Linked DNA regions of Homo sapiens: region 1 is linked to region 2. The links come from fine-mapping of genetic effects on gene expression. A gene starts in region 2. The other region holds a variant in brackets. All regions are shown on one strand. Distances are from middle to middle. Region 1 overlaps SACM1L (SAC1 like phosphatidylinositide phosphatase). Region 2 holds the start of SLC6A20 (solute carrier family 6 member 20).

Evidence for each region. PIP is the estimated chance that this variant, and not a neighbour inherited with it, causes the effect.
Region 1: its variant is fine-mapped to the expression of SLC6A20 in transverse colon (GTEx, PIP 0.96).

Annotation. Positions count from the first base shown.
Region 1 is chr3:45,693,776-45,699,154 of GRCh38, forward strand. The region is part of intron 1 of SACM1L (SAC1 like phosphatidylinositide phosphatase); the gene reads left to right. Among named protein-coding and RNA genes, the nearest start is that of SACM1L, 7.1 kb to the left of the region's middle. RefSeq lists an enhancer at 370-509. The variant T/C (reference allele first, on the strand shown) is at 2,446.
Region 2 is chr3:45,793,627-45,799,005 of GRCh38, forward strand. SLC6A20 (solute carrier family 6 member 20) reads right to left here and starts at 2,910. Exons shown (of 11, transcript NM_020208.4): 1 at 2,673-2,910. The coding sequence starts at 2,793. LOC107986082 (a long non-coding RNA gene) reads left to right here and starts at 2,273. Exons shown (of 3, transcript XR_001740680.2): 1 at 2,273-2,417; 2 at 3,307-3,388.

The sequences.
Region 1 (5,379 bases), 100 kb before region 2:
CATATGTTTAATGTGGAAAACAGAATATTGATTTGCTCAGAATTTAAAATTCATACTTTTTAAACTTCCAGGCAGTTCTAAATATCCTGTTAGGCTCCATTTTTCTTTTTAAGCCATTTGTATAGGCATGGATAATGTCAGACAGTGATAAATTTGAAATTGCAAAATAATTAGACTGGAAATGTAATTTTTAAGAAGCTTATCTATCCCTGTATATAAGCTAAAATACCTTGGCAGTTCGGCGTAGGTGTCACATTTCCTTTGCAGGGAAATGACATCAAATGTGGTTTGGGCACTTCTTAGGCCCCTCAGACCTCAAGCTCATAATAACTTTCTAAAAGGTTCAGTGGAAAGTTAGAGGTGCAAAATTATTGGATACATTTAAAGCATTTTTTCTTCTTTTTTTTTCTTTTTCTTTTAAAAGGTCAGTTGAAACTAGGTGTAAGGCAGGGAATCCTTTAGTTACTGCATCAGGCTGCAGCATGCCTCTGAAGAGTACTGTTTCCTCAGGAAATTGCCATTTTTAAAAGAGTCTCATAACTGTGAGGTCATCAGTCAGGGCAGATATGATCCAACCTTGAAAACAGATGTAACCTAAGCTACCTTGTGATACAGACACATATAATCTGTTCAATATAATGAACATTCATATTATTCACAGAAGTCTCCCGGTGGAGGGAAGGGTGTAGGGCAGCTCAGATTATTCTCATGAGTTTTAGCACAGACAATATGGGGTTTGTATCCAAAGCATTAGTTGGCTGGGAGTTCAGGCTAGTTCAGGCTTACCTAGGCTCACGTGGCTAGCCTAGGTTAGTGCTAGGCTACATCAAATGACTTGGTATGCTTGTTTTAAGTGCGTATTCCAGGGCCCCACATTAGGCCTACTGAGTGAAAATCTCTGGGGATGAGCGGTGGAAATCTGCAAGTTTAACTAGCTATCCTGGTAGTTTTTATGCACTCTGAAATATTTTAGGGCTGGGCATACATAGCTGAGTTAGGACCAGAACATGCTGGTAGAAGAGAATTCTTTGGAAGATATGGGGCTCTGGTAGATTGTGCTGTGGATTAGAGCTTCAGATTAGGTGGAATTTGGACCTAGTCCTGTGAAGAAGTCTGGTTGAGAGAATGGGTTTTAGGGCATTCAGGGAATAGGATATAGGTGGGAACACAGAGTTTTGAGAAAGAGGATAGCATTAGAATGAGTCTTTCTAGAAACACCAACTGGTTTGGAATTGGGTTGTGCCCCTGGGGAGTCTGTGATGAACTTGAGCTATAGGAGAGGCAACCAGGGAGGGCTCAGTGAGGAGATACCCAAAGGGAGGATGAATGGGGGAGGTAGGAGCACCTTCTGCCTATGAGTGTAGTATGTGCAGGGGATCCTTCTTTACTAAGTTGTTTTCTTTTTGCTCACCAAACCTAGTAAAGTGTTGTGCCTCTGTCTTTTCAACCAGAGATGTATTAAATTTGATCATTAAGACCTTGATTTAATTCTTTTTTTTTTTTGAGATGGGGTCTCACTCTGTTGCCCAGGCTGGAGTGCAGTGGCGCAGTCTCGGCTCACCACAACCACCACCTCCCAGGTTCAAGTGATTCTTGTGCCTCAGCCTCCCTTGTAGCTGGGACTACAGGCATGCACCACCAGGCCCGGCTAATTTTTGTATTGTTAGTAGAGACAGAGTTTCACCATGTTGGCCAGGCTGGTCTTGATCTCCTGACCTCAAGTGATCCACCTGCCTCGGCCTCCCAAAGTGTTGGGATTACAGGCATGAGCCACTGCACCCAGCCAAATTCTTTACGTAAGATTTTTGAGGGAATATGTTCTTGCTACAGTTTTATGACATATCACTGTGGCTCCTATGCAAAATAGTGGTTTCATTATTTTTAAAAATTGTGGTAAAATAAAACATTAAATTTACCATCTCAACCATTTTTAAGTATACAGTTCAGGGGCAATAAGCACATTCATGTTGTACAACCGTTATCACCATCCATCACCAGAACCGTTTTCATCTTGCAAAAATAAACTCTGTACCCATTAAACAACTCCCCATTTCTGTATCCTCCCAGCCCCTGGCAACCACCGTTCTACTTTCTGTCTCTATAAATTTGACTTCTCTAGATGCCTCATGAAGTGGCAGTATTTGTCCTTTTATGACTGGTTTATTTCACTTAGCATAATGTCCTTAAGGTTCATCCATTGTGTAGCATGTGTCAGAATTTCCTTTTTTTTTTTTTTTTTTGAGATGGAGTCTCGCTCTGTTGCCTATGCTGGAGTACAGTGGTGCGATCTCGGCCCACTGCAACCTCTGCCTCCTGGGTTCAAGCAATTCTCCTGCCTTAGCCTCCTAAGTAGCTGGGATTTCAGGTGCCTGCCACCACGCCCAGCTACTGTTTTGTATTTTTAGTAGAGACAAGGTTTCACTGCATTTGCCAGGATGGTCTCCA[T/C]CTCCTGACCTCGTGATCCGCCTGCCTCGTCCTCCCTGAGTGTTGGGATTCCAGGCCTGAGCCACTGTGCCTGGCCCAGAATTTCCTTTCTAAGGCTGAATAATATTCCATTATATGTATGTACCACATTTCGTTTGTTCATTTGTTAATAGACACATAGGTGGCTTCCACCTTTTTGGCTATTGTGAGTAATGCCAGTATGAATGTGAGTATACAAATACCTTTTTGAAACCCTACTTTCAGTTATTTTGAGTATATACCCGGAAGTGGAATTGTTGGGTCATATGGGAATTCTATTTTTAATTTTTAATGGGCCACCATACTGTTTTCCCATAGTGGCTGCACCGTTTTACATTCCCACCCACAAAGCACCAGGATTCCAGTGTCTCCGCATCCTAGCCAACACTCGTTATTTTCTATCCTGGGTTTGTTTTTTTTTTCCTTCTAGATAATAGCCATTTTAATGGGTATGAGGTTGGTAAGTAGTAATGTTTTTGTAGTGGGCCAGTTTTACTCATTGATTTGACAGGATTTTAAAGAGATCAGTTGTCTGAAATAAGACGTGAATGTTACATGAGAGATAAATGTTTTCAGACACTAGAAAATCGCAATGCCAACACTGAAAGAAAATAAAAATATTTGATGTTAATATTATAATTAAAGATATTGCTTTTCTTAAAATTTAACAAGACTAATTTTTTAAAAAACACTCTTAAGAGCTGTTGAATCCCAGGTGACTATAAGATTAAATGCATTTGTATTAAGTGTAATACCAGAACTGCCTTTGTTGCATTTAGCTTTTAGTCCCAGTTCCACTTCTGGGATACTCAAAATAATTAAAAGTAAGGTCTCAAAGAGGGATTTGTATACCCCTGTTCATAGCAGCATTATTCACAACAGTCAAAAAGGAGGAAGCAACCTAAGTGTTGATTCTTTCTTTTTTTTTTATTTCAACATTTTTTGTAGAGATGAGATCTCGCTGTGTTGACCAGGCTGGTCTCAAACTCCTGGCCTCAAGATCCTCCTGCTTTGTTTTTCTTTTCTTTTCCTTTTTTTTTTTTTTTTTTTTTTTTTAAGACAGGCTCTTGCTCTGTTGCCCAGGCTGGAGTGTAGTGGTGCGATCTTGGCTCAGAGCAGCCTCTGCCTCCCAGGTTGAAGTGATCCTCCGACCTCAGCCTCCTGAATAGCTGAGGCCACAGGTGCATACCACCACACCTGGCTAATTTTTGCATTTTTTGTAGAAACGGGGTTTTGCCATGTTGCCCAGGCTGGTCTCAAACTCCTGGGCTCAAGCAGTCCTCCTGCCTCAGCCTCCCAAAGTGCTAGGATTACAGGCATGAGCACTGTATCCAACCACTTTTTCTTTTTTATGCCATGCTTGGACAGTAATCCTTAAAAGCAAAATGACGAACTGAATGAAGGTAGTCAAAATAGGAGCAATTATTATACAAGTATTATGCTATTTTGATATATCTTCCATAGTATGTGTCTTATTAATGGGAACCAGAACTCTGGGTAGGTATGGGATCCCCTTGTCTTGACAGATATTTGGTAGGATTCTTGTTCAGTTAGAGTTAATAGTGAATTGGAGGCTAATCACCTCACCAGATAGTTTATATAGGACCAGAACCCTTTTTAGTATACAGTATTACTTTGAACCTTAGAGATCTGTTATCAACAGTATAGATAATGACCAAATAATCTTCTTGGATCGAATCTTGTCTTCCGAAATCCATTTCATAAAATAAGTAATATGATAGCTTGTTTGGTAAAGATTTAAACACAAAAATAGCAATAAAACAATACACACCAGGAAAAATTATACCACTGAATGTTTACTTAATTGTTTTTGACGGTTTAAATGCTAGAGAGTTAAAGTTAATTTCACTGGCTTTTGAAATGAAGCCCAGGAAGCATAAAACATAGAATAAAATTTATTACATAAAACAATTATGCTTCAGATCAGTATTAAGACCAATACAAAAGTGGTGGGAAATGAGAGGAAGAGAACAGTAAGGGCATATATGTAGGTGCCGTGAGTTAGGATGATACCTGCTGTTATGGTTAACAGAATTGTGAGTCATTACTTCTAATGAGCATCCCTAGAAATGTTGATTCCCTGGCAGTCACTGTTCACATTTTCATTGCTCCAATTCTTAAGCCTAGAGATACCACTTTCAGTGACATTATCAGAATAGCCTGATGGCAGCATCAGCAATTTAGATTCCAACAGCATCTCTCAGAGAGAGAAGATCAAGCAAAGGCCTCAGGACTTTTGAGCGAGACATCTCTACCTTGATCCATAATTACTCTTATTTGTATACTTTGTTATAATACTTTTTTTTTTGAGACAAAGTCTCGCTCTTGTGCCCCAGGCTGGAGTGCGATGGCGCAATCTCTGCTCACTGCAACCTCCGCCTCCCAGGTTCAAGCGATTCTCCTGCCTCAGCCTCCTGAGTAGCTGGGATTACAGGCGCCTGCCACCATGCCTGGCTAATTTTTGTATTTTTAGTAGAGATAGGGTTTCACCATGTTGGCCAGGCTGGTCTTGACTGAACTCCTAACTTCACGGAGTCTTGCTCTGTCACCAGCCTAGAGTGCAGTGGCGTGATCTCAGCTCACTGCAACCTCCACCTCCTGGGTTCAAGCAAGCGATTCCCCTGTCTCAGCCTCCCGAGTAGCTGGGACTACAGGCACGTGCCACCGCACCCAGCTAATTTTTTTGTTTGTATTTTAGTAGAGACGGGTTTCACCATGTTGGCCAGGATGGTCTCGATCTCCTGACCTTGTGATCCACCCGCCTCGGCCTCCCAAAGTGCTGGGATTTTGCATGAGCCTCTGCGCCTGGCCTGTAATACAGTTTTTAAATCTTATTTTTATTTCAATCTTATGTATACGGTTTAAAAGTAAGTAGTATACAAAGCTTATAATAAC
Region 2 (5,379 bases):
ACGGGCAGAGTCCCATGGAGAGGGGCACAGATCCCTAATCCGTCTTATTCTGGGAAGTATTTTGGCACAGCCTGGCTCTGTGGTTTATAAACAAATTCTTTGTTTGCTGGGGGTATTTGCAGCTCTGCTTACAAGGAAGTTATACACCCCTCTGCAGCCTTTCATAATGTGGCTGATTTTTACCTTCCGGTAAGGGATGGGTTGTAAACTGCCTGGGTTTGGGGCAACACAAATCACTTCTTAAAGGTGACTTTACTGTGCAGTGAAAGGCTTGGGAAAGCCTCTAGCATCCTCTAGCGTCATTTATTCTGTGGCTTTTCCTAATACCTTGCTCATTCACTCAACAAATATTTATTGGATGGCTCCTGTGACTCCATCACATCACAGAGGTTGGGCCGGGCGGAGACAGAGAAACTGAAGAACAATGTGCAGTTCTTCTGACCAAGTGCTTATGTGGCCTGTGAAGTAGTGAGGAGAGTCAGAGAGCACAACGGAGAGAAAGCAATATTTGGTCCCACCTGGAGGGAATGGTGGGAGTTCTCCCAGCAACAACAGCCTCTCAGGTGGAGGAAATATCTTGTGTGAAGGGTTGAGGCACAGAAGGAGGTGCTCATGGAAGTGTTTGGAAGGCAGGAGGAGGTTTGAAGCTGTGTGGCAGGAAATGAGGTGGAAATATTGGACAAGTGGTCAAGTTAGGTGGTCAAGTGCCTACGGTGCCAAGTGGACTGTTCGGTCTTTATTCTGTAGACATGTGGCTGACAGGGTGCCATCCACCAGACCCACACCCTCCTTTTGTCTGTGCACCCACTAATCCATGCATACACCCAGCCACCAATCCATGCTCCGTCCGGCTTCCACTCATCTATCTATCCACCCATCCAGCCGAAGCATCCTCTGCACCAGGCACAGGATTACTTCTTGTTTCTTTTTCTTGGAACCTGAGGGTCTTGAGGTTTCCCTAGCAACCCCTTGATACATATTCAACTCCAGAACTATCAGCCCCACATGCATCCCTCTGCAGACTATTCAGGTGATGGTGGTATTATAAACAAGGAATTAAGTAGTCATGTGACAGTGAGGCTCACCTGGACTGATGACTGGGAAACATGTACCCAGGATAAAGGTATCATGGGTAGGTCTACTGAGCACAGAATGATGTGGAAATCTCATTCTGACAAATAATTCTTTTTAAGAGTCAGTTATAGAGCTGTTAGAGCACATGGTAATGCTGTTAGAGCATATGGCAACATATGCCCTTCACATCATTATGGTGTATTTATGCACTTCAAATTTTAAAAAGGAATCAGGAAATTAAGAATGCACTGTTTTAAAAACTCTATGAATTAACCTTTTGTTGATTTGGGGTAAGGGGAGGAGGGAGCAGTGTTTAGCTCTTGGTCTTCTCAAATGGGTTCATTTTCGTAAATACTTTGGTCTAACATCTTCCATGATCTTTTATGGTGAAAAAAACATGCTAATTATAGAAGTCCTAATACACAAACACACACATACACACACAAAAACACACACACACGACAAGGTAAACAAAAATCACCCAGAAATTTTGTTAACAATTTGATGTCTTTTCCCCATTCTTTTCTCTGCATATTTTTAAGTAATTGTTTTAAAATGTCAAATCCATTTTATATAGCTTTGAATCTGATTTCTCCTCCCTCCACTTAATACAGGATACGAGAAAATACAATTTTTTTTTTGAAAATGCCGCCTTAAAGGCTGCGAAGAGCAACCTTGAATGGATGCTCTATAATTTACTGAACCAATCCCCTTTATTTGAGGGCTTAGGAAGTTGCCAATGTTTTGCTCTTATTAAATGATGGTGACCATCCTTCTACCTCTGTCAGAACTCTGACAATTTCCTTTAGATACAATTCTAGAAACGAGACAACCGAGAAAAAAAGTGTTTTAGATGCTGAGACTTAAATCCCTCTTGCCACATTGCCTTCCAAAAAGGTACTTGGGCTTCACGAGGTTATAGACATGTGTAGAAGGTGTTCCCAGCTTTCCGCAACGCTAGGGGAGTGCGGTAAGAGCGCGTGGCTGGCTGGCTGTCCCCGGAGCGTGCATGATGCTTCGGAGGAAACATTTATTTAAGAAAAACAAAACAAAACAGAATGATTTGCATTTCCTGCTTTCTGTCGTTCCAAACTCAAACCAATCTCCTTATAAAAAATTTAAAGAAATGGCTCAAGATTCTCTTAACCTGAGTTTCAAACCGTTGATTTAAGTTTCGGATCTGAAAGTTGTATAACGAGTTTCTGTTGAATAAGACAATTTCCTACTCACTTTTTACACCTAAACGTAAGGTTTACTCACTAAGACGTCAGACCATTGACACTTCTCTCGAAGAAGGAGACCGCGTCCCCTGCGCTCTCAGAGCCGCAGCCTGGCCAACAAGGGTGAGGGTTGGGGGCTTGGCCGCCCCCGGGATGGGGCGAGGGGTTCCCGAGGGCTTGGGAGGGCGGCTTGGGAGAGAGCTCCGGCTCCGGAACGAGGTGTCCTGGGAACACTCCCGGGTCTGTAACTTCGGACAAATCACGCTCGCTTTCCCGGCCTCAGTGTGCCGTTCTGTAACTTGGGTCTAACCCCGGCTCGCACACACGGCGGGGACGCGCACAGAGTTGGGCTGGGGCCGGGGCGCGGTGGGCACTCACCTCCGCCGTACATCTGGCACAGGTACGGGAATCGCCACACGTTGCCCAGGCCCACGGCGTACGAGATGCAGGCGAACACGAACTGTAGCGAGTTGGCCCACAGCGGCCGCGCTTTCTCCATGGCCCCGGCCTCGGCGCGCTCGGCTCCGGCTCGGGGGTCCGGCACGGCAGTCTCAGTGCGCGGTCGCCAGGCGCGCCGTCCCACCCCGGCTCGGCTTGGGGGTGGCCCCGCGCCTCCGCCGCCGACGCAGCTAGCTGGTTTTTAAATTGCTAATCTCATTAACGGCGCGCCCGTCCGAGAGGCGAGGCTGGTAAATGGATGACGGCGAGCCCCACCCCGCCCGATCGTCGCGGCCGGGAAGGCACCCGAGATTGCAGAGGACAGGGCGGAGTCCCCTGGGGTCCTCCGGCTCGGCGGGGCCTTTCTTCAGGCTGCGGAACTCCTCGAAGTGGGCGCCTTCCCTCGGCCACTCACCTGTCATTTATCGAGCGCCTACTGTGTGCCAGGCGTTGTCTGGGGACACGGCTGTGAACCACTTCCCAGCTCCGTCTTGGAGCTGACATTCTGGTAGAGGGAAACACTTGAATTGGACTGCATGAAATGCCCCATTTTCAACCATTTTTTAATTTATAGAAAGGACAATGTCATATGGTTCAACCTAGCCCACGTATAAGACTGAGAGACGCGAGGAAGACACCTAAGGCAAAGTAAAGGGGTAAGCAGTTGCGGGGGGTGGCCAGGGATGGTTAGGGAGGGCTTCTCAGAGGAGAGAACATAACATTTGCCAGGGGCCAGAAAGAAGTGAGGGACCTTCCCGGCAGTCCCGTCCCCTCCGTCCACCCAACAGCTTGGCCCTGCGTGCCTACTGGGTCCGGGGACGGAATCAGGTTTTGAACTGCTGTGGGGGACTCTACTGCTCAGGCCAGCCTAGGGGCCAGAAATTTTGATTCATTAGGCCAGGGTAGGGAACTAAGAAACCTCGTATTTCTGCCAGTCTTACAACGTGATTTGCTTGAGGGTGGTCACTAGATAAGACAGAGCTTGGTGCTTTGCAGTAATGTGGAATCTGGGTTTGTATACCAACTCTGCTACTGACTTAGCTGTGTGACCTTGGACAAGGCACTTGACTTCTCTGAGTCTCTGTGTACTCCTCTGTAATGCTAACAGATATCTTCCCCTCTCTCCTGCCTGGCAAGGAAGAGCTCATGTGAGGATTAATTGGGAACTTAGCTTACTACCTGGCACAGAGTAAGTTCTCAATAAAGAGGCCATTACCAAGTCTCCAGCAGGCTGAATGAATGAATGGGTAACATATTAATACTAATGCCACGCTTTGAACAGTGCCTAATACATTGTAACAGATAAGAAAATGCTAAATAATAATAATAAAATTTAAAAGAGATGAAAAGCAGAGTTGCTAGTGAAAATCTTACTTGAAGCCAAAATGAAATCAGTGCTCTAGGACAGCTCCTTGTTGGGCTTTCCCTGGAGTTCCTGCCTGTCTGGTCCCAGAGGAGAAGGGTGAGTAGGGTGAGGGAGGTGGAGGCTTCCTCAGACATATTACCTGTCCTGGAACTTCCTACCTCGAAAAAGCAAAGCAGAAAAAAAAGGCAGCACAGCAGGAGAAACTACTTTAATTTTTTTAAACTTCAGATTCTAGATAAATGTTTTTTCCTACCCATTGCCTCCTCCCCAAAGGAACCTACCATCCTGGTGTCTAACCCCATGGGTTAGTTTTGACCTTGATGAAAATGGAATTAAATGGGATGTACTTTTTCTGTGCCTGGCTTCATTTGCTTTCCGTTGTTTGTGGGGTTCATTCATGTTCTAGTGTGTTGTGTAGCTGTGGGTCATTCTCTCTCACTGCAGTATACTTGTCGGTGGTGTGAGTATGCTCCAGTCTACTACTGACAGATGTCTGTGTTGTCTCCAGTTTGGGGCTGTCATGAATAGGGCTGCAATGCACATTCTAGTGCACGTTCTTCCGTAGATGAATGCACTCACTGCTGGGAACTTCTTGGCCTTAGGATAGGTGTGTTTGGCTTTAGCAGATATTGTCAGACTGTTTTCCAGAGTGTGGTAGTACAAGCTGACACTCCCTTTGGGTTTCAGTTGCTTTTGCTTTGCATCCTAACACTTGTCATTCTATTTCTAAAGGTCTGCCCAGTCTTGTAGGTGTATAGTGATAGTTCATTGTGCCTTTTTTTTTTTTTTTGAGACGGCGTCTCACTGTGTCGCCCAGGCTGGAGCACAGTGGCGCGATCTCGGCTCACTGCAAGTGCCACCTCTGGGGTTCGCGCCATTCTCCTGCCTCAGCCTCCCGAGTAGCTGGGACTACAGGCACCCATCACTATGCCCAGCTAATTTTGTTTTTGTATTTTTATTAGAGACGGGGTTTCACCGTGTTAGCCAGGATGGTCTCAATCTCCTGACCTTGTGATCTGCCCGCCTCAGCCTCCCAAAGTACTGGGATTACAGGCGTGAGCCACCACGCCTGGCCCATTGTGCCTTATTTTAACTTCCCTCATGACCAGTAAGGCTGCATACCATTCCATAGGCTAATTGGGCCATCTAGGTATCTTTTTTCATGAAGTGCCTGTTCAAATTTTTTGTCAGTTTTTAATTGGGTTGTCTGATTTTTTCCTACCGATTTGTAGTTCTTTATGTATTCTGGATTTGGGTCCTATGCCAGTTTAGTGTATTACA